Regions from separate parts of the Homo sapiens genome. Here all the other regions are linked to region 3. The links come from fine-mapping of genetic effects on gene expression. A gene starts in region 3. Each other region holds a variant in brackets. All regions are shown on one strand. Distances are between the middles of the regions. Region 1 overlaps ARHGEF10 (Rho guanine nucleotide exchange factor 10). Region 2 overlaps ARHGEF10 (Rho guanine nucleotide exchange factor 10). Region 3 holds the start of ARHGEF10 (Rho guanine nucleotide exchange factor 10).

Evidence for each region.
Region 1: its variant is fine-mapped to the expression of ARHGEF10 in whole blood (TOPMed, PIP above 0.99).
Region 2: its variant is fine-mapped to the expression of ARHGEF10 in fibroblasts (GTEx, PIP 0.97).

Annotation. Positions count from the first base shown.
Region 1 is chr8:1,850,967-1,857,987 of GRCh38, reverse strand. It overlaps ARHGEF10 (Rho guanine nucleotide exchange factor 10), which reads right to left. Exons shown (of 29, transcript NM_014629.4): 3 at 1-28. Among named protein-coding and RNA genes, the nearest start is that of ARHGEF10, 31 kb to the right of the region's middle. The variant G/AG (reference allele first, on the strand shown) is at 3,427.
Region 2 is chr8:1,900,904-1,907,924 of GRCh38, reverse strand. It overlaps ARHGEF10 (Rho guanine nucleotide exchange factor 10), which reads right to left. Exons shown (of 29, transcript NM_014629.4): 16 at 4,474-4,644; 17 at 2,209-2,354. Among named protein-coding and RNA genes, the nearest start is that of KBTBD11-OT1, 67 kb to the left of the region's middle. RefSeq lists an enhancer at 450-1,649. The variant A/TA (reference allele first, on the strand shown) is at 3,096.
Region 3 is chr8:1,819,654-1,826,674 of GRCh38, reverse strand. ARHGEF10 (Rho guanine nucleotide exchange factor 10) reads right to left here and starts at 2,749. Exons shown (of 29, transcript NM_014629.4): 1 at 2,562-2,749.

The DNA of each region.
Region 1 (7,021 bases), 31 kb before region 3:
TTATTGGTATCATATTTCATTTCATTTTCTAAAAAGAAAAACCAAAACCACATCAAGGAGAGATAGATAGATAGATAGATAGATAGATAGATAGATAGATAGATAGATCGATCGATCTATGTTAGCCAGAGACACTGACTAAGTTCCTCTGTGCTGTACTGCGCTTGTAGTTAACCTTTTTAAGGGGCAAAATAAGTATCATTAGAATTCTGAGTCACTGGTTTTTATTTTCTTTTAATAGGATCTACAACTCACAGAGAAGAAACAAGAGGCTGGGGGTGGTAGCTCACATCTGTAATCCCAGCACTTTGGGAGGCCAAGGTGGGCAGATCACAAGGTAAGAAGCTTGAGACCAGCCTGGCCAACATGGTGAAACCCCATCTCTACTAAAAATAAAAAAATTAGCCAGGCGTGTTGGCGGGCACCTGTAATCCCAGCTTCTCAGGAAGGTGGGGCAGGAGAATGGCTTGAACCCGAGAGGCGGAGGTTGCAGTGAACCGAGATTGCACCATTGCACTCCAGCCTGGGTGACAGGGCAAAACTCTGTCTCAAAAAAAAAAAAAAAGAAAAGAAAACAAGAGAAAGTAAGGGGAAAAAAGAGCTTTTCACATTTTAAATCTGTGCACCCAGCAGATGAACATCACCCGGCTGGGCTGATGGTCTGGAAGAGAATTCAGTATCATCCACTTTACTTTTAGAAATAACTTCTGACACCTTGCATCTCTCCCTAGAATTCTTCTCCTTTTATTTTCATTTTGCCTCTCTTATTTACAATTTTAATTAAATATCTCTGATGGTTAGAAAATCAGTGTCAAATATGAACACCGATATATAGCTTAAAATACAAACCTCCATAATTATTAAAGAGCATGGTTAATAACTGTTCCAAGTAAGTGCTTGATAAGAAACATTTTGCAGGAGGCGAGTCACAGGTCTCCTTGGACCGGGGTTACGGCTGATGGCGCAGCCTGCCGTGTGCATCATTTGCAGAGACGGCGTGCTAGGACTGTGTGCCACCATCAGAGCAGACAGGTGCTTCTCCTTTTTCCAGAGGAGACCCATGTGCTGGGACAACACCACCCGGCACACCCAGGAGCGAGAGGAACCCAGCCCCTGCCAGCCTTTCCCAAGGGCTGGGATTTCTTCCCAGCACACGTTCCTGAGGAAACCTCCTGCTGCCATGCCCGGCAATCCACAGAAGCAGGTGGCACCTCGGGACAGAGCCTGGGTCAGCCCAAACCAAGCCCCTCCAACACAGACAATCCCCCGTGGGCCAGGGAGATGCACCCAAGCAGGACGGCCCAGCTCGGCTGCAGGCAGCTCCGGAGGGGGCTGAGGGGGAGCCCTGCTAGGGAGCAACCCACAGACACACAACCCACTTACACTCCACGCAGTCTCCAGGCGCTCTCTGCCGAGCCTCCTGGGGAAGTCGCCTCCCGGGGAACTCTAGCGGTCTAAAAACAACCTTTAAATTTGAGGTGTTTCATTTTCCTTTGAATCTCCTAAACTAGTCATACATTCTAGGAGTGCCTTTTGAAGGAAACAGATTTTTAGGTCACCACAAATACACAGAGGGGCCCAGGCCCACGACAGCGTGAACTGGATCCAGCTACCACTGCAAGGACGGTGGGGATGAGACCCCCAGCTGACCATGACACCTGGGGACCCCACGAGCTTTCTGGAACTGCTTCCACCAACACTCACGAGTTTTACAAGTATGAGAATGACAAATACTAAAATTGAATCAAGAAAAAGGATTCAGAAATGTGTTATTTTTAAAACATACGTCTGATAGGAGTGTGTGTTGCTGTCCTTCTGGATGGTGAACTCTGCTCTGCCCAGATACCAAAGCCTCACCCACTTCCTAGAGGGTCAAAGACTTCTCTAAATTCAAAGTTTTGAATTTAAGCCTAATCAAATGAAACAATCGAAGCAGGGGGAGAGCTGGAATGGACAGAACCGCTAATTTCCAGAGTTTGAGCCTTGTTAACTATGTACTTTCAAACCAGTCCTCACTGTCTCCCAAGCGACCGTAAACAAAACCTATTTCAGAAGGGGTTTTTTTTTTTGCCATATCATTAAGTAGTCAGTTTATGGAAATGAACTGGTGAATACCTTTTAAAGTAAAAAGTTAAACAAACAAAAAAACTGTTTTCTGGAATATTTTCCAAATGCAACTGTCATTTCCACAGAATTCACGTTTGGGGAGAAAAAATCATGTTTGCCAAATAAACGTGCTGCGGAAACAATGCCGACTAAATGCCGTGACGAAAATGATCAGTGAAAATGTTTATGTATTGCTGGGCGCAGGGGCTCACACGTGTAATCCCAGCACTTTCAAAGGCCAAGGAGGACTAATTGCTTGAGCCCAGGAATTTGAGACCAGCCTGGACAACATAGTGAAACCCCGTCTCTTAAAAAAAAAAAAAGGTACAAAAATTAGCCTGGGGTGAAGGCGTGGACCTGTGGTCCCACCTACTCCGAAGGCTGAGGTGGGAGGATCACCTGAACCCAGTAAGCGGAAGTTGCAGTGAGCTGAGATTGCGCCACCGCACTGCAGCCTGGGGGACAGAGCAACACCTTGTCCCCCACCCCAAAAAAAGTTTCTGTTCTGACCACCCCAAAAAAAGTCACTGCCAGGCACATGTTCAGATTCATCCAGACGGTGACACAATCACACTAGATTTTTATATTGTCAACTCTCTTTTTTGGAAATTATAGTTTACTACCGCTGAACTCAAACAATTAGATAAAATACACCTAGACATGAGTCTATAAATATTGTTTTTTAAAAAAGCTTGACAATGTCTGGTACAAAATAGGCTCTCAAATATCTGCAAGGGGAGAAACATGAGCTGTTGGGACCGGAACCCACACTGTACCCCATACAGGAAGAAGGAATTCTCTTTAAAGTCTTCAGGAAGGAAGGCCGTGAACAGGAGCCCGTGTGTGCAGGAAACAGCCCTGAGGAGACACCGAGGCCCCTCCACTCCCTCCCCATACGCCACCTCCTGGGCTGTGACACCAGCCCCGGGAGACCGGTGGGATTACCTGGGACAGTGCATGTCCCGTGTGCCAGGTACAGGTATGACCCTGAGAAGAACCGCATGCGTTCTCGGAGCCGGCACCTCTGCTCACCGCCCAGCAAGGTGCAGTGGGAAACCTGGTTGGCGGCAATGTGTGACACGCACATCATGTGAGCGAATGAATGAGAGAATGACGAGCAGATGAGCAAGCTTCAAACTGTTTTTTGCCAAAATAACTCACTTTTTCCCCTAGTAAAATTTAAGTAGAATTCTACTATACAAGGGAAATCAAAGCAATCAAGAAATTCCTCCAAAAGTTTAAATCTTGTTAGTTTAGACTTGGAGGGGCTTGGAAGGGGCTTGGGGCTTGGAATTCAAGAGCTCTCTGCTGTCATTGAAA[G/AG]ACTGGCAGACACTGGCGGAGCTGCCCTCCATCCTCTGCAAACACTGCAGGGAAAGACTTTCAAGTTATATAGACTCTGCAGAATGATGTGTGTTACAAATTCCTCTCAGAATTCAGTTCCAGTAAGAAAAAAATAGCCTTTCTACAAGAACTCAAAGAAGTTGTGCTCAATGTAACCACCTGAGGCTGCACCCCTGCCTGCATGGGTGCCCACAGCTGTGCCCACGGCGGGCGCCCAGGACAGAGGGCGAGGCCGCCTGGAGCTGGGCTGCTCCTCTGACCCCCACCTCCAAGGGGGCCTCCATCGATGGTGAGGCTGCGCCGCCCTCTGAGGTGAGCATGGGGCCGGGCGTTCAAGGTGGTGTGTGCTGAGCATGTCCATCCCAGACACTGCCCTGGGCCCTGGGGGATCCTGGGCATCACAGACCCCACCCGAGCTCCCCAGGTCCCTTAGTGAAGTGCAATGCAGAATGCCTTTAAAAATCCCAGCATTTGGGGTCCTAAGTTTAGTTCTGACACCAGCCCTGACAGGTTCAATTGTGTCCCCTAAATCCCTGTGCTGAAATCCTCACCCCCAGTCTGCTGGTGAGCTCGTCTGCAAACAGGTGACTGCAGGTGCAATTGGTTTACAGGAGGCTGTGCTAGAGCAGGCTCGGCTAACCCAGTGTGGCAGTGTCCTCATGACAGCAGAGGCCAGCACAGGGACGAGGAGCCACCTGGCAGTGCAGCTGCAGGAACTCCCGGGAGTGCCCACAGCCGGCGGGCGCTGGAAGAGGCAAGGAAGGCTGTGACCTACATTCCCGGGGAGCACACACAGCCTGCCAGCACCCTGACCTGGGACTTCCGGCCTGCAACCCAGGAGGCTCCCCCGCAAGCTCGGCCAAGCCCTTTCCAACACAAAAGGTCCTGTGCCATCCTCAGGGCCCTGGCGGGAGCCAGGCAAGCTGGGCTGGGTCGGTTCCCACAACACTCCTGCTGCAGCCACAGAAGGAATTCCCGCTTCTCAAAACCCCAGCTTCAGAACCCAGCCATTCAGCTGAAGGAGAACACTGATGAGAAAAACTACAATTTGCAAACTAGAAAAGATGCTCAAGGGCTGCTGAAAGCATCTCAGGAGATACAACGTGTTGTAGTTTGAGACGACATGGATCTTTCAAAAAGCTGTTGGGGAATCTGCAGTGTAGCCGTCATTCGCTGGACACACCATGGCCCAGTGTTCTCCGCCCGTTGGTCCCTGTGGAGCCCAGGAGGTGGGCGGGAAGGGCCCGGCGCTCTGGGTAGGCAGCTGGCAGGGAAGCAGGGAAGGGCGGCCTGGGCAGGGCTGCACCTAGGGAGAGGCTCTGTGCCCCTCCTGCCCACTCAGGACGGCAGGTTCTGAGAGTCACCCATGAAGGCCATGACACGGAGGAGGAAACACAGACGGCAGTGCAGCCCGTGCCGACCCACAGGCATCCAGCCCAAATCTAACCACCCGCCAGTGCCCGGCCCAAATCTAACCACCCGCCAGCGCCCGGCCCAAATCTAACCTGGGGACCATTCTTCCCCTGCCCCTCTCCTCTGGCCTGCCCAGGACAGGCTGCCCTCTGGCCACAGCTGCACTTCCCAGGAAAACTGCAGGCTCTGCTGCATTCAGGGGCCAGCCCTTGTGGGTCACCGGCAGCTTGACACGACACCCCTAATGCTGACCGACAGCAGCAGCCATTTAAGCCTCAGGATTCAGACTGTTTCCGTCACAGCAGGGCCATTGGGGCTGCCTTGGTGGCACTGACTTCTTACCAACCTGACTTTTTACACTTGTGAGTATGCAGGTAATTGGCTCATCAATTAAGGCACACATTTCTAAAACAAGTTATGAAATAGAAAACTTTAAGAAACATTACGTTTCCAATCATTATGACATAATATGACCATGCCCATTTTAAGTTATGCCTATATGCAAAAAAGGGCGAGGAAGTTACCTGACAATCCAATCTTCGAAATGCTGCTGCTAGAAAAGGTGCTGCTCCCGGGTTCTCTCCAGGATGATGGAGAGGTTCTAGAGGGCCCTCAGGACAGAAACGGTGCTGCTCCCCGGTCCTCTCCAGGATGATGGAGAGGTTCTAGAGGGCCCTCAGGACAGAAACGGTGCTGCTCCCCGGTCCTCTCCAGGATGATGGAGAGGTTCTAGAGGGCCCTCAGGACAGAAACGGTGCTGCTCCCCGGTCCTCTCCAGGATGATGGAGAGGTTCTAGAGGGCCCTCAGGACAGAAACGGTGCTGCTCCCCGGTCCTCTCCAGGATGATGGAGAGGTTCTAGAGGGCCCTCAGGACAGAAACGGTGCTGCTCCCCGGTCCTCTCCAGGATGATGGAGAGGTTCTAGAGGGCCCGCAGGACAGCTCAAGTCACACATGGCTATTGCACTTGGGGTGGCCAGTGTGACCAAGAGCCTCAGTTGTTGTTGTTATTTAATTCTTATCAATTCTAAGTTTTGTAGACACCTGAGCCTAGTGGACCTCGCAGGCCTGAATCTCGAGCTATCAAGACGGCTAACGGCCTGTCTGAGCCTGAGAGCCGTCCCCACACCCACAGGGCCCCTCTGCTTGTGTCTGTCTTCATATGGTCTGCAGCAGAGATTCATTTCCATTTGGTTATTAATTTTTTTTTTTTTTGAGACAGAGTCATGCTCTGTTGCCCGCGCTGGAGTGCAGTATTGCGATCGCAGCTTACTGCAGCCTTGACCTCCTGGGCTCAAGCAATCCTCCCACCTCAGCCTCCCAAGCAGCCAGGACTACAGGCATGAGCCACCACGCCTGGCTAAGTTTTATTATTTTTAATAGAGACGAGGTGGCACTATGTTGCCCAGGCTGGTCTCAAACTCCTGAACTCAAGTGATCCTCCTGCCTCGGCCTCCCAAAGTGCTGGGATTACAGGCAAGAGCCAACGTGCCCACCCCAGTTTGGTTGCTTTTAAGAGATACAACTTTTTAGAGCAGTTTTAGGTTCACAGGAAAATTGAGAGGAAGGTACAGAGAGTTCTCATATACTCCCCACCCCCAAAGAGAGCCTCCCCCAACACTATCCCCCATCCTTTGCCAGAGTGGAACACTTGTTGCAACTGAGAAGCCAACACTGAGGTACGTCACTAACTAAAGCCCACGGTGTGTGTTAGGCCTCGCTCCTGGTGCTGTGCCTTCTGTGTGAGGAGCCAACAATGAGGTATGTCACTAACTAAAGCCCACGGTGTGCGTGAGGCCTCGCTCCTGGTGCTGTGCCTTCTGTGTGAGGAGCCAACACTGAGGTACGTCGCTAACTAAAGCCCACGGTGTGCGTGAGGCCTCGCTCCTGGTGCTGTGCCTTCTATGGGTTTGGACAGGCGTGTAATGATGTTGAGGTACGTCGCTAACTAAAGCCCACGGTGTGCGTGAGGCCTCGCTCCTGGTGCTGTGCCTTCTATGGGTTTGGACAGGCGTGTAATGACATGGATGCACCATTATCAAGGAATTTCGTGGCCCTAAAAATCCCGTGCTCCGCCTGTCACCCCTCCCCCCCGCAAACCCCTAGCAACCCTGAGCTTGTTACTGTATAATTTTGTTTTCTAGAATGTCACGTGGTTGGAA
Region 2 (7,021 bases), 81 kb before region 3:
CCCTACAGAGGAGGTTTAGAATCTTAATGTTCACAGGGCCGACCAAAGGGTCCTTGGGAGCTATTTGAAACAAAATGCATTCTCATCTCATCACCTTCGGGCACTGTCGCTGAAAATCTCACACTGACAACATGTCCATGGGAAAGGAATTGCGACTCACCACTGCACTTCGCAAAAAAAGAAATTCAAGCCCTGGCATCGTGGGAAAGGCAGGGGCGTTATTTTAAGGAATCCTCTAGCAGTAAGCACAGCTGAGTTACTTTTAAAGTATCCATTTTAATTCATCTTTAAAGTACACCACGTCTGGCAGCGGGAGAATTTTAAACGTACTTAAAACTGCCCAAGAGTCAAGTGTGTCCTGGCGCTCCCCAACAGCAGCCTGAGGGGTTCTGGAGCAGCAGTCAGTGTCAGACAAACATCAGTGATGAATGCGGAAAAGACTCAACAAGGACCATTATATTTGCTTAGGACTTTGCCGTTTACAAGGTCATTTCACTTCTATGATCTTGTCTCCCAGGGCAGGTGGAACAAGCATTAATGTCCCCAACTTGACACATCGTGTGGGCCAACTTGCAGGTGAGGAGCTGGGTGGATTCAGCCACAGTGGGGCCACTTCACTGAAAACTAACTTTCCAGGTGTTACATGGAGAGGGGGGTTCTGGGACAGTTAAACTTGGAAGCCATACTGTTAAGTGATAAACACCTTTAGTCTCCACACTATGGGAAGCACCTCATAACACCAGGGAAACGGGTGGAGACACCTTACTCTGCATCCTCGCAATTCTAAGCATCCTCTAGAGCAGCCCACACCTGGAGTTCTCCAGCTGCGACCTCCCACGGCCTCACTCCGTCAGCTCCTCTCCAACGCAGGGTGCAGTGGGCTTCACTTCTGCACACAGAAGGCAGGTGGCCTGCGGCTGTCGCCAGGCGTCCACAGTGAAGGCCAAGCCATGGGGTATGAGTCAAATGAACAGGGTTCTTTCTCTTACAAGAAGGAGTGTCATTAAAGACTCACATATTTTTTGGACTTATTTTGTAGCTGCCACAAAGTCACTGACGATGATGAAAAGCAACAATGAAAACCTGTCCCTCGCAGGCAGTGCCGTGTGCCAGGTGCCCTGCAGCAGCTTAATGAACGTTCTCGCCTTGATCCCTGAAGAGACCCGCAAGAGCGTACCACTGGCATTATTTTTATGATCAACCCTATTGCACGGATGAGGAGTCCGAGGCAAAGTCAGAGAGGGTAATTTTCAGAGTTCAGAGAAGGTGGATGTGCAGTTCACACTAAGGAGTCCGACTCCTGAGCGCTGACCTGCACACCCTCGCTGCCTGGGTCTCTAAGGCAAGGTGAGGAGGGCAGGCAGATATATCTGGCCGCTGGAAAATGGGGGCGACGGGCATGAAAAATAGGGCATGTTTAGTGGTGTGCTGGCAAACGTTTAACAGCTGGCTCTCACTGGGAGGACAGGCTCCTAACACATCGTGTTGGGCAAATTCCATGCTGTAAATGTTCCCGTGTGGATGACTTCAAGCTACCAAATGTTTAGCAACTGGATCTCAAAACTCTGGAAGATTCAACACTTGACTCTTGCAAGACATGACGAATTGGCACCACGTTCGCTTGCATTATTTTCTACAGCACCAGGAGTGTTATAGTTAACTTTATATCAGTTCCCTTATCATCTACCTGTATTTGAAGACCTTTTAGTTTCTCACATATCCTCATCTCACTACAATATTCCATGCATTGGAGAACGATTCTGATGTAAAACTATTTTAAGTGAAAATAACTCATTTTCTTGGTTTACAATAAATATGAATATACCCAACTTTATTATATTTAAACATTTATCAAAAATATATTTATAGAGAAGCAGGTAAAGAGAGAATTTAAACCATAAGAAAAAGAACTCTTGATTTAGGAGGGTTATGAAGAAATTCAATTGAGTTTCTAGTTCCGCCATCAGCCCTGTTTAAAGAGTATATAAACCTCTACGTACTTCTACTAACAGTGACTTGGTGACTTACACTGAATCTATTTAAAAATAAGCTTGCTTATTATAAGGGTTCCCTTAGTCACAGGACAGAGCTTTGGCACAAAAAACCAGTTCAGTCTGAGTGACAGAATTAACAAAGTCATGCATGTGCCCTTAGGCAAAGGTAACATGTGATGATGGTAGGACTACTATAGAGAATTTATGCACTTACCGTGAGCTGACGGTGGCACACATTAACACATCATTTAACATGAAGACTCGGCGTTCTTTGGTTTTAACAATCTCTCCTCTGTCGTTGTAAACTGTTTCTATCATATCATCTGATCGAATGAGGTATCGGCTTCCACTGCTGAGAAGCTGGACATTCAAAACACAGCCCAGGGACCACAGTTCAGTTTACCCGGAAAAGAAAAAGATGAGGAGAAGTCTGGTATGGAGTCTCAGGGTGACTTTTCCAAACTGAGCGCTTTACGGAAATCGTTCCTATGTTCCCCGTGACTGCGCTGAACATCCGCCTCCTTCCTCACAGACTTTCACCGCAGTTGGCCCTCCCGCGATTTAAACACTACATTAACCAGGAACGGTGAGGAATGCAAGGAATTGTTTTGTAATTTTACTTTTCCCCAAGTAAACCTAATTAAGCATAGTTAAATGACTATCTTAACTTCTTAAAGGTAGGCCATATTTTACTTCACTGAGCCAAAGCAAAACCATCAGTTCTTCAGAAAGACGCTTTGTATGAACCAAGACAATGGTATGCGATGTAGAAGTCACACTACCTTTTTTGTTTGTTTGTTCTGAGACCAAGCCTCGCTCTGTTACCCAGGCTGGAGTGCAGCCGCACAATCTCAACTCACTGCAACCTCCACCTCCTGGGTTCAATTGATTCTCGTGCCTCAGCCTCTCGAGTAGCTGGGACCACAGGTGTGCACCACCACACCCAGCTAATTTGTTTCTTTTTGTATTTTTAGTAGAGACGGGGTTTTGTCATGTTGGTTAGGCTGGTCCGGAACTCCTGACCTCACGTGATCCACCCACCTCGGCCTCCCAAAGAGCTGGGATTACAGGCGTGAGCCACTGCACCCGGCCAATACTTAT[A/TA]ACAACTCAGCCCACAAGAAAAACAGAGTCCTCAGCCCCGGTGGTCTGTGCTGTCTTTTGATTCTAAACCTACGCTGCTGCCCAGCTCTGAGCAACCAGCGAGACACCCGCCTCCCTGAATGTCCCTGCCAAGTGCACGGGAACGATGAGGCATGTGGGTGACATTCAGTGCGAAGCATCATCCCCTCTTCCTGGGCCTCTGGGCTTGCTCCGTGCCCCATGTGTATTCGGAGGTTCAAGTGCCACAGGGAGCATGATTTTAAATAACATGAACCATGTCAAGAATATAACTGAATACAATTTGCTGCTTATAAACGTTCCTACATAAACCACTTGGAGAAATGGGGAAAATATGTGGCTTAAAGTGTATTACCATAAAGTTCGCACAGTTACATTACTGAATGTCATTGTAACGTAAGAAACTACTCCTAATGACAAAACAATGATTTGTAGCAATAATGATTTTTAGCAATAATGAATATTAGATGCAATAACTTAACACAGTTCATACAAATTACCATCTCCCTGTGAGCCAGGGCCTTCAGTGAATACGGGAAAGCCCACATAAATTCAGAGTACTGCTGCAGACAAGTAGTTATGTAAGCATCAAGCTGAAATGTAGCCTGGCAAATGAACTGCCGCCTTCTGGGTCCTGCATCTCTTTTCACGCTCAATGCAGCTTAGCCCATGCATAGGTGAAGACAAAAAATGTTTGTGAATTTTTTTTTTTTTTGAAACAGGGTTTTGCTCCATCACCCAGGCTAGAGTGCAGCACCTCAATAACAGCTCACCACAGCCTGGACCTCCCAGGCTCGAGCAATCCTCTGGCCTCAGCCTCCCACGTAGCTCAGACTATATAGGTGCATGCCACTGTGCCCAGCTATTTTTTTTTTCTTTTTTTAGATATGGGTTCTCACTATCATGCCCAGGCTGGTCTTGAACTCCTGGGTTCCAGCGATCTTCCCACCTCAGCCTCCCAAAGTGCTGGGCTTACAGGTGTGAGCCACTGTGCCTAGCCTGTAAATATTTTCAGCTTTAACTATTACTATCTGAAATTAAATACCGTTATTTTGAAAGGAAAAGTAAGCTAAAGGAGTTGCTCTTAACCCCTTGGGAGGTCCTGGATCCATTTGAGGGTCTAATGAATGTATGAATCTCTTTCCTAAGAAAATGCTGTTAAGACAGGCTGTTAAGGTTTTACATACAATTTCCACATTGGTGTGACTCTCCCGAAGGCCTCCATCCACCCCGGTTAAGAACTCTGGGCGAAGGGAATTACTCCAAACGATCCAAAAGATTAGTATTGCTGGACAACGACAGCTTATTAGCACAAAGCAAAAATAATTTTGGAATAGAGTTGAAGAAAACCTCTCTCAACCTTGTTCAGGTATCTTTCGTTTATGGCTTTGGCTATTTGCTTCACTTCACAGCGTTGATCAGCATCTCTCTTTCTTTCATTTAACTTCTCTGCTAGTGTTTCGAGCTCTGTCAGGGCCATCTGAAGAGGCAGCCTGTCGGGGTGGCCTTTGGAGGTGTTCTTCAGCATGTCCTACAAGCAACAGGGGAGAGGTGGGCAGTTACCACGTGGACACTCCCAGTGCAACAACAGTCGCGTCACCCGCCAGCTGACAATGGAAAGGAGGCAGTGGCATCTGCCATCCTGGGGAAAAATAAAGTCAGTTCTTGGGAAGGGATGATGAGCTGAGTGAGTCACGACTTGGCTGAACATCTGAACAGCTTCCTTTGCAAAAACAAAATTGAAAAAATAGCACTGTACAATAAAGGACACGCTAAATATGAACATATCACAATCTCAGAAATACTGTGCACTTGGAACGATGCTCACGATGATGATAGATTCTCCTTCTCAAGTTGAGTCAGACAGATGAACCCATGCACAGATGGGTCCAGCTACTTTCTTCAAAACACCAGTCTCCCAGTTTCCAATGTGCAGGAGTACTGTGGTGCCGAATACTGCACCCATGGTGTCAACTCACACAGCAGGATCGAGTCTCTCTCACAGTGACAAAGGAACCTGATTTTAGGGCGGCAAAGATGCATGACACTATCGTGGTGGGTCCATGTCACTAAACGTTCATCCGAACCCACCGAATGCACAGCACAAGGGTACGCCCTCCTGCGACTGTGGCCGCTGGGCAGTGGCTGCGTGGCCACGCAGGCTCCTGGTTGTCACAAATGCACTCTGGTGGAGATGTGGGGGGAGGGGGCTATGCATGTTAGGGGAGGGGTAGATGGGAAACCTCTGTACTTTCCGCTCAATTTTGCTGCGACCCTAAAATTTCTCTTAAAAAGTAGTCTTTAAAAAAAGGGAGTTGAGCTACCTCTTCTCCCAGTTAAGGTTTCAGACAAGCACGAGGAGGTCAAAGGGAGGGTATGTGGCACAAATCAACAACAACAGCCAGCAAAAAATGACGCACTGCTGCCAATCACAGGATAAACGTTAACAGGCAGTAACAAAAGGACATTTCTGTCACCTTGGTTTTATGCAGGGCCTTTTGTTTCCCAGCTTTCGTTCACATTCGACACGCTGACGTTTGCTGAAGGGGCAAACGTGAACTTGAAACACTCTTTCTCAGAATTAAATGTGGTTCTGCAATGAGATCACATGGACACAGGGAGGGGCGCATCACACACCGGGGCCTGTTGCGGGGCGGGGGGTGAGGGGAGGGAGAGCATTAAGACAAATACCTAATGCACGCGGGGCTTAAAACCTAGATGACGGGTTGCTAGGTGCAGCAGCCCACCATGGCACAGGTATACCTATGGAACAAACCTGCACATTCTGCACACATATCCCAGAACTTAGAGTGAGAAAAAAAAATGTGGTTCTGCGTCTTGCCTACCATCTTTGACATGTTTATAGGAATATTAGTAGTCATGGAATTCAACAGCGTGCTTATCTTTTTAAACCTTTTTTTAAAATCTGGAAAGGACATTGCATAAATGATTAAATGTTTCCAGTTTGTAATGAATATAAACTATTCTATACATTTGTTTTCCTATGAGTCACAACGAATTCTATCAAGGCAAAAAAGAACAATCTTAACACTAGTTCTGCACCAAACCCACACACTGGTGGTGGCACCGGGGACTAGGCGTGCGATGGAGACAGCAGCCAGCACAGGGTGGAGTCCGACATGCCGTGGGGCCACTGAGCACAGCCGGGGGCATCCGCCGGGCTGGCAGCCACCCAAGGAGGCTCAGGGAAGGAGAAAAGTGAAGTTTCTCGCTGCTGTTATTATCAGAAATTGTTACTTATCTTTGCACAACAACGGAGAGAAATAGGTAGCTGGGATAAAGACAAATGTCACAGGGCCAATGGATGTTTCTGGATCCATGGGAGAAACTGACAGTACCAGCATAGCCAGGGTGAGCCGGTTTCACTGCCTGAGCCAGGGGACAGCTGTGGCTTCACAGCACCTGTCTTAGAAAGAAGGTCTGGGAGCACTAACCAGGAAGAACGCAGGCAAGACCGGAGAGCAGAGACCAGGAGAGTCACTGGGAGGAAGGGGACAGAGGGTGTCCAGGCCTCTCCACACTGTCTCCCCATCCACCTACACTCAGCACACGGACTACGGCAGAAGGCAGGAGGGAGGGTATGTGCTTGTACCTGCTGACTCTCTGCAGCCTGTCTCCTCGCCCCATCCCGGGTGCCCTGAGTACCCACACCTGAGGTAGGGCCCCTCAGGCACATCCACACAATGACTCCAGACACAGACACCACCTTGTTTCCAACTCTGCCTCTTCCAAAGTACGTGGACCCACCCTGCTCCCCTCCGAGAACACTCTAGGATACGCCAGCGTTTCATCAAATGTGGGCAAAAAGTGTCCCTGAGGGAAACTGCTCGGCACATCTAGGATCTGCAGTTTGTTTTGTCAGATCAAGGCAAAGACCATTTTCTCCT
Region 3 (7,021 bases):
CAACCGTCATTAGCGCATTTCCAGTTTGCTCTAATTTATGCCAAACATCTTTGTTTTAAGCAGCACTTCCCCATACAACGCCTTCTAGCAACTTCGTAAGTGAGCACCCTCAAGTCCCGTGAGAAGTCTGGACTCACAGGGCCAGGGAAAAGCTTCCCCACCTCAACCCAGGTCTGTAACTCCACACCCTCCACACCACCCAACGCCTCTATCTACAACTCACACACGCGCACACACACACACACAAAGCGCACACACACACAGCACACACACAAACACACGCACACACAAACGCACACACATGCATACAAACACAAACACATACACAAAGACACACGCACACGTATGCACACACAAACTGCAGAGGAAAGGCAGCACACCAAAGCACCCAGAAGACAAATGTGGTTACATCTGGAAGTCAAGCATCAACTTTTAAAAACATAAAAAGCTATTCTGAATAACTTTTAACTTCACTTCACCCCCAACTGTCTACAACTAATGAATTACAAATAGCACCTTATACAAATGACTTTTCTTACTGCTGAGAAATCCTGGAGGTCTCATCTGTCTATAAAGAGTTATGCATCCGTAACTGCCGATGTTGGCTGCTAAAGCCAGCAAATAAATGCTGTGAGAGACAGACAGGGACAAAGTGTGTTTTTAAAAATACATGACGTGTAAACCTCAGTAATCATCTCTCTTTTCGAATAAAAATTATTTTCTATAAAGCAGGTGTTCAAAACATATTATTAATCAGCAACAGTGAAATTGTTCCTCCTTGCAGCATTCCACCCATATGGACATTAAGTCACTCCTGCACAGAATCTAGAATACTGACCAGTCCGTACTCAGGTTATGGTTAACCAGAGAAAAGAATTAAAACCCGTTACATCTTGAGTCAATGAGAATTTTTACTTGCAGCCAAAGTTAGTGACTGGAATCAATATCAGACAACAGCAAGTTCGTCTACTGCTGCCTGGGAACATGACCTACTGGCCACAGTCGGGAGGGGTACTCAGACCTCACCTTCAGTGCCCAGGGGCCCATGGAAGGGGAGTGGGGCTGGGACAGGTGGGCAGGGCGTCTGTGGACCTAGGGCAGTTTCCTCAGAATCTACCTTGGCTTCTTGGGCACCAGCGGGCTGTGGGGTGCAGGGGAACAGGTGGAGTACGGGGGGGACAGCTGGGGTGCGAGGGACAGCTGGGGTGCAGGGTAAACAGGTGAGGTGTAGGGGGACAGGTGAGGTGCAGAGGACAGGTGGGGATCAGGGGGACAGGTGGGGTGCAGGACAGTTGAGGTGCAGGGGACAGGTGGGGTTCAGGGAGAGAGGTGGGGTGCGAGGACAGGTGGGGTGCGGGGGAACAGGTGGGGTACGGGGAGACAGGTGGGGTGCGGGGGGACAGGTGGGGTGCAGGTGAACAGGTGGGGTGCGGGGGACAGGTGGGGTGCGGGGGGACAGGTGGGGTGCGGGGGGACAGGTGGGGTGCGGGGGGACAGGTGGAGTGCGGGGGGACAGGTGGGGTGCGGGGGGACAGGTGGGGTGCGGGGGGACAGGTGAGGTGCAGGGGGGACAGGTGGGGTGCGGGGGGACAGGTGGAGTGCGGGGGGACAGGTGGAGTGCGGGTGAACAGGTGGGGTGTGGGGGGACAGCTGGGGTGCAGAGTAAACAGGTGGGGTGTGGGGAGGACAGGTGGGGTGCGAGGGGACAGGTGGGGTGCGGGGAACTGGTGGAGTGCAGAGTTAACATGGGGTGCTGAGGGACAGGCGGGGTACACGGGGTGCGGGGAACTGGTGGGGTGTGGGGGGACAGCTGGGGTGCAGAGTAAACAGGTGGGGTGTGGGGAAGACAGGTGGGGTGCAGGGGGAACAGGTGGGGTGCGAGGGGACAGGTGGGGTGCAGAATAAACAGGTAGGGTGCGGGGGGACAGGCGGGGTGCGGGGGAATAGGTGGGGTGTGGGGGGGACAGCTGCGGCGCGGGGGACAGCTGGGGTGCAGGGTAAACAGGTGGGGTGCGGGGGGACAGCTGGGGTGCGGGGAACTGGTGGAGTGCAGAGTGAACAGGGGGTGCTGAGGGACAGGCGGGGTACACGGGGTGCGGGGAACTGGTGGGGTAGGGGGACAGGTAGGGTGCGGGGGAAAGACGCCGGCTTTCCTTACACCGGTCCTTCTCTGCATCCTGAGGCGGACCGCATTCTTCTCCTTTACCGGAAAATCTAAGTTACTGCACGACCCCCCAGGCGAAGCCAGCTCGCCCCTCGGGCTCCTTCCGCCGATCGGAGTTCGCTCCTGCCCCTGGGGCCAGGGGTCCCTGCTGCCAGTCCCTGCTCCCCCCGCCCAGGCCCGCGCCGTTATCCTGAGGGGCCGGGGGCGCCGCGGAAGGGGGAGCTGCTCGGGGGGAGGGGGTCTCAGCCCCTTCCCTGAAACATCTGCGCAGGGGGTCGGGGGCGCAGCCACCTCCGGGTGGGACCCAGCGATTTCGGGGGAGCCGGGCAGAAGTGCAACTCTCAAAGGAAACCAGAAGCCCGCGAGGGGACCCACGGTCCGCGGGGCCCGCACTCACCTCGGCGGCCAGGACGCGACCCGCAGTCCCCTGCTGTTCCCCGCCGTCCCCCGCTGTTCCCCGCCGTCCCCCGCTGTTCCCCGCCGTCCCCCGCCGTTCCCCGCCGTCCCCCGCGTCCCCCGCGTCCCCCGCGACCCCGTCCGTCCCGGATCGCGCGCCCGCCGGCTACAGGGATGCGCCCAGCCCCTCCCGCCCGGACGGCCTGCTCCACCCACCATGCTGTCATTGGCGGGCCCAGACCGTTCCGGGCGCCCATTGGCCGCAGAGCCTGCCGGTTTCTCGGCAGCGCCCTGCCCTCGCGCCCGCGCATTCCTTCGAGGCCACGTGGCCGCCCGCGCCCCCTCCCGCTGCCCAACGCCCGGCCCAGGCTGCGCACGCGTGGGAGGGGGCGCGCGGCAGAGGCTCCCGCCCCCGGATCATCTCCTGCCCCGCGGACCCCGGGCCGCGCTCACTTCGGGAGGGGTCGCTGGGCAGACCGAGTGCCCTCCCCGCCCCCAACATCTGGATCCTCCCCGCAGAGCCTGCTCCCGGCTCAGAGCTGCGCCCCTTGGGGAGGGTGCGCCGGGCAGACCCTAACCCTCTCCCAGAGCACCGCCCTTTCTGCGGACCCCCACGGGCTGAGCTCACCTGAGGGAGGGGGCGTCGGGCAGACGCTCCCCCCCCCAGAACATCGCCCCTCCCTGCGGACACCCGGGGTGCGCCCAGCCGAGGAGGGGGCGTCGGGACCCCACCCGACCCGCCCTTGAGCCCCCGTCCCTCCGTCCGCAGCTGGCCCTGCCCACAGGGCGTTCCGGGTCTTCCGCGCCAGCTGCCCTGGACCAGCCAAGGCTTGGGCGTTTGGAAATGCGATGACTTCAGCCACGTTTCCGAGGCAGTTTTTGAAGCTTGCTTCTTGCCAGGAAGCGCTCGTTTTTCCCGGGACCTTTCCAGGGAATGGCCCCTTCTGAGTTATTGGAATTGTTTACTTTGAGCATTTATTTGTCTTATACTTTTAAAAAGGAAACAGATTATCGTTATAATTACTATTAAAGAAAAAAAAAAACGAGAAACAAAGACATTTTTAACCAAAATAACTAAAGGATGTTATCTTTTACCTGGTCAGCACATTTAACAAGTGTGTTCGCAGATGCTAGATTTATTTCTATGCCTTCTCCTACCCAAATCTCCGAATCATAGAAGTAATTTTAAGTCAGTGTTTTAGAACTGTCAGACTTCTTAGAGATTTCTAGCCCCTTTCACTTGTTTTATAGAAGAAATACAAACAGCTATTTGGGATGCTAAGTATCACGAAATTAATCTAAACATTAACTGCCCTTAAGGCTTGTGTGCTCTGGAATAAGTTATTTCCCTGAAAATTTTGGACTATGTAAAAATCATAGCCAACATAGAAAGACTACAATGGCTGGAAAAAATAATCGTAGGTAAGGTGATATTTTTTCAATGTTTATTATTCACACTTGCTAATTTTATGAAATCAGACTGAGTTGTTTTTATGAATCAATTGAAAAAGGTATTTGCTCTCAGCGACCTTAAGATTAGAAAACTTATTTCAGGTTTCTATTCCTAGGGTTCTCTGGGTACCTTATTCAGAGATCTTCTGCACAGATCAATGGTCAGATCAATGGTCTTGATCAACAGAAGTAAGAAGGTCAACTAAATTAGTTCTTGTTTACCTAAATACGATGAGAAAATCCTGATACTTGTAGTGTTTTCTAAAAAGGTAGAGATAAGAGGAAATAGTCCTGTGTATGGAATAAACAACTCATTTTCTCAATGGATGAAATTGAGCCCCTAAACTCAGGGCCGCCAGGGACACCACTGAGTAGGGCCACAGAGCAATGCCTTCCAGGCAGGTTGGGCAGAAAATCCCCTGATTTGGAGCTCCAATAGATCCTGTCTGTCTGCTTTATTCAGGCGTTCCTCACAGATACATCCCTATTTTCGTAAGCCCGGATATGGAAGAGTTGGGATTTTCCATTGTGATTCCCTCTTTGACCCATGGGATATTTAGAAAAGTTAGGTTCACCTTTCAAATATATGGGGACTTTCTGGTTTTCTTTTTATTGTAACTAAAGTTTAATTCCACCGGGCCTTAAAACATCAGCTGTTTTATTTTTGTCGTTTAAGATTTTCAAACACTTGCTTCATGGCCCAACATTGTCTATTTTGGTAAATGTTCTATGAGCACTTGCTGAGAACATGCTTTCACTGACATAAAGTTCTACAGATGTCAATTAGGTCATATTTGTTACTGATTTTTTTATCTACTTGTACTTTTTATCTACTTGTACTTTTTATCTACTTGTACTGATAAGGGTGTATGAAAATCTTTGACTCTCCGTAGTCTATTCAGCATTGTCCTGCAGCATCTAACAAGTGTTGTAGGTCATAAAAACAAAAAGTGTAAGGATTGAGGGAGGAAAAACTGATTATTTACAGTCAATATGATTATATATGTTAAAAAACAAAATTATCTACAAATAAACTATTAGGATTAAAATAGAATTTAGGAATTTCAGATGGATCATAGACTTAAGTGTAAAAATTATAAAGTTGCTAGGATAAAATATAAGAAAAGATCTTACGGATCTTCAGGTAAGACAGAAAATGGACCGACCATTTAAAAATGATTAAATGGCTTATCAAAATTTAATATTTCTACTCATCTCATGACATCATTAAGAAAATGAAAAGGCAAGCCACAGACTGGGAGAACACAGGGGCAATGCATATATCCCACAAATGGCTTGTCTTAATCCACGTTGTGCTGCTGTAACAGAATACCTGGGAATGGGTGATTTACAATGAAAAGAAATTTATTTCTCACAGTTCTGGAGGCTGGGAAGTTCAAGATCAAGGAGCCACATCTGGCAAGAACCTTCGGGCTGCATCATCCCATGACGGAAGGTGGGAGGCGGAGGTGGGGAGGGAGGATGCAAAATGGGCCAAACTTATCTTTTTTTTTTTTTTTTTTGAGACGGAGTCTTGCTCTGTCATCAGGCTGGAGTGCAGTGGTGCGATCTCTGCTCACTGCAACCTCCGACTCCCTGGTTCAAGCTATTCTGCCTCAGCCTCCCGAGTAGCTGGGATTACAGGTATGTGCCACCACACCCAGCTAATTTTTGTATTTTTAGTAGAGACGAGGTTTCACCCAAACTCATTCTTTTATAAGGAGCCCACCGCCTCAGTCATGGCATTTATCCATCCATGAGGGTCATACCCCCATGACCCAGACACCACCTAGTAGGCACCTTCCAACACTGCTGCATTGGGGGTCAAGTTTCCAACACATAAACTTTGGGGAAAACGCGTTCAAACCATAGTCCTGGTAAATAGAGAACTCCTGCAAATGAACAATAACAAGACAAGTCTATTTCAAAAGGGACAAAACAATATAACAATAACAAGCCTGTAAATAACAATAACAAGTCTATTTAAAAATAAACAAAAGACGTAAATACTTCACCAAAGATGTACTGATAGCCAACAAGAACAGGAAATAGTGCTCAGTGTTACCCAAAGTAAACTCACAATGAGATGCCACCACCGTCATCCAAGCACGGCTGAAACTGCAGACCGACATGGCAAGGGTAAAAATGTGGAGCCCCTGGAACCACTATACAAGGCGATGAGAGTGCAAATGGCGCAACCACTCTGATTAATTGTTTGCCCATTTCTCAGCAATCCCACTTTTAGGTTTGCCCAAGGCAAGTGAAAACATAAGTCCCTTAAAAGACTTTTACAGCCAGACATGGTGACTCCCACCTGTAACCCCAGCACTTTAGGAGGCCAAGGTGGAGGATTGCTTGAGCCCAGGAGTCTAGCATGATAGTCTCCACCTCCAGTCCCAGCTACTTAGGAAGCTGAAGTGGGAGGATCGCTTGAGGCTGGGAGGTCAAGGCTGTAATGAGTCATGTTCACCACCACTGCACTCTAGCCTGGGTGGACAGAGCAAGACCCTGTCTCAAAAAAAAAAAATGATTTTTACAAGAATTCTTTCTTCAAAACAGTTCAAATACTTCGCAACTGGAAACAACCCAAATTCCATCAACAGGTGAACTCATAAAGTATTGTATCTTCATAGAATAATAGAATACTAATAATACAGTAATAAAAAGGAAGAAACTGATATGTTCAATAACAATGAATCTTGAAAACATGAAAAACATAGACAAAAGGGCACATATAGTATGATTCAATTTTTATGAAATTCAAGAATGTGCCAAACCAACCTATAATAATAGGAATCAGAACAGTGGTTATTTTTGGGGGTATTGTCTCAGAAAAGACAAAGGAATTCTGGGGAGTGATGAAAACGGTGACTACATCTTGATTTGATTTGCAGACACATGGGTGTGTTCACTTTGTAAATAGAATCAAGCCGAACACAAGAGTAAGCTACTTCATGGGATATATACAGTGGCCTCAATGCATCCCCCTTGATGACTGAAAGTTCATCA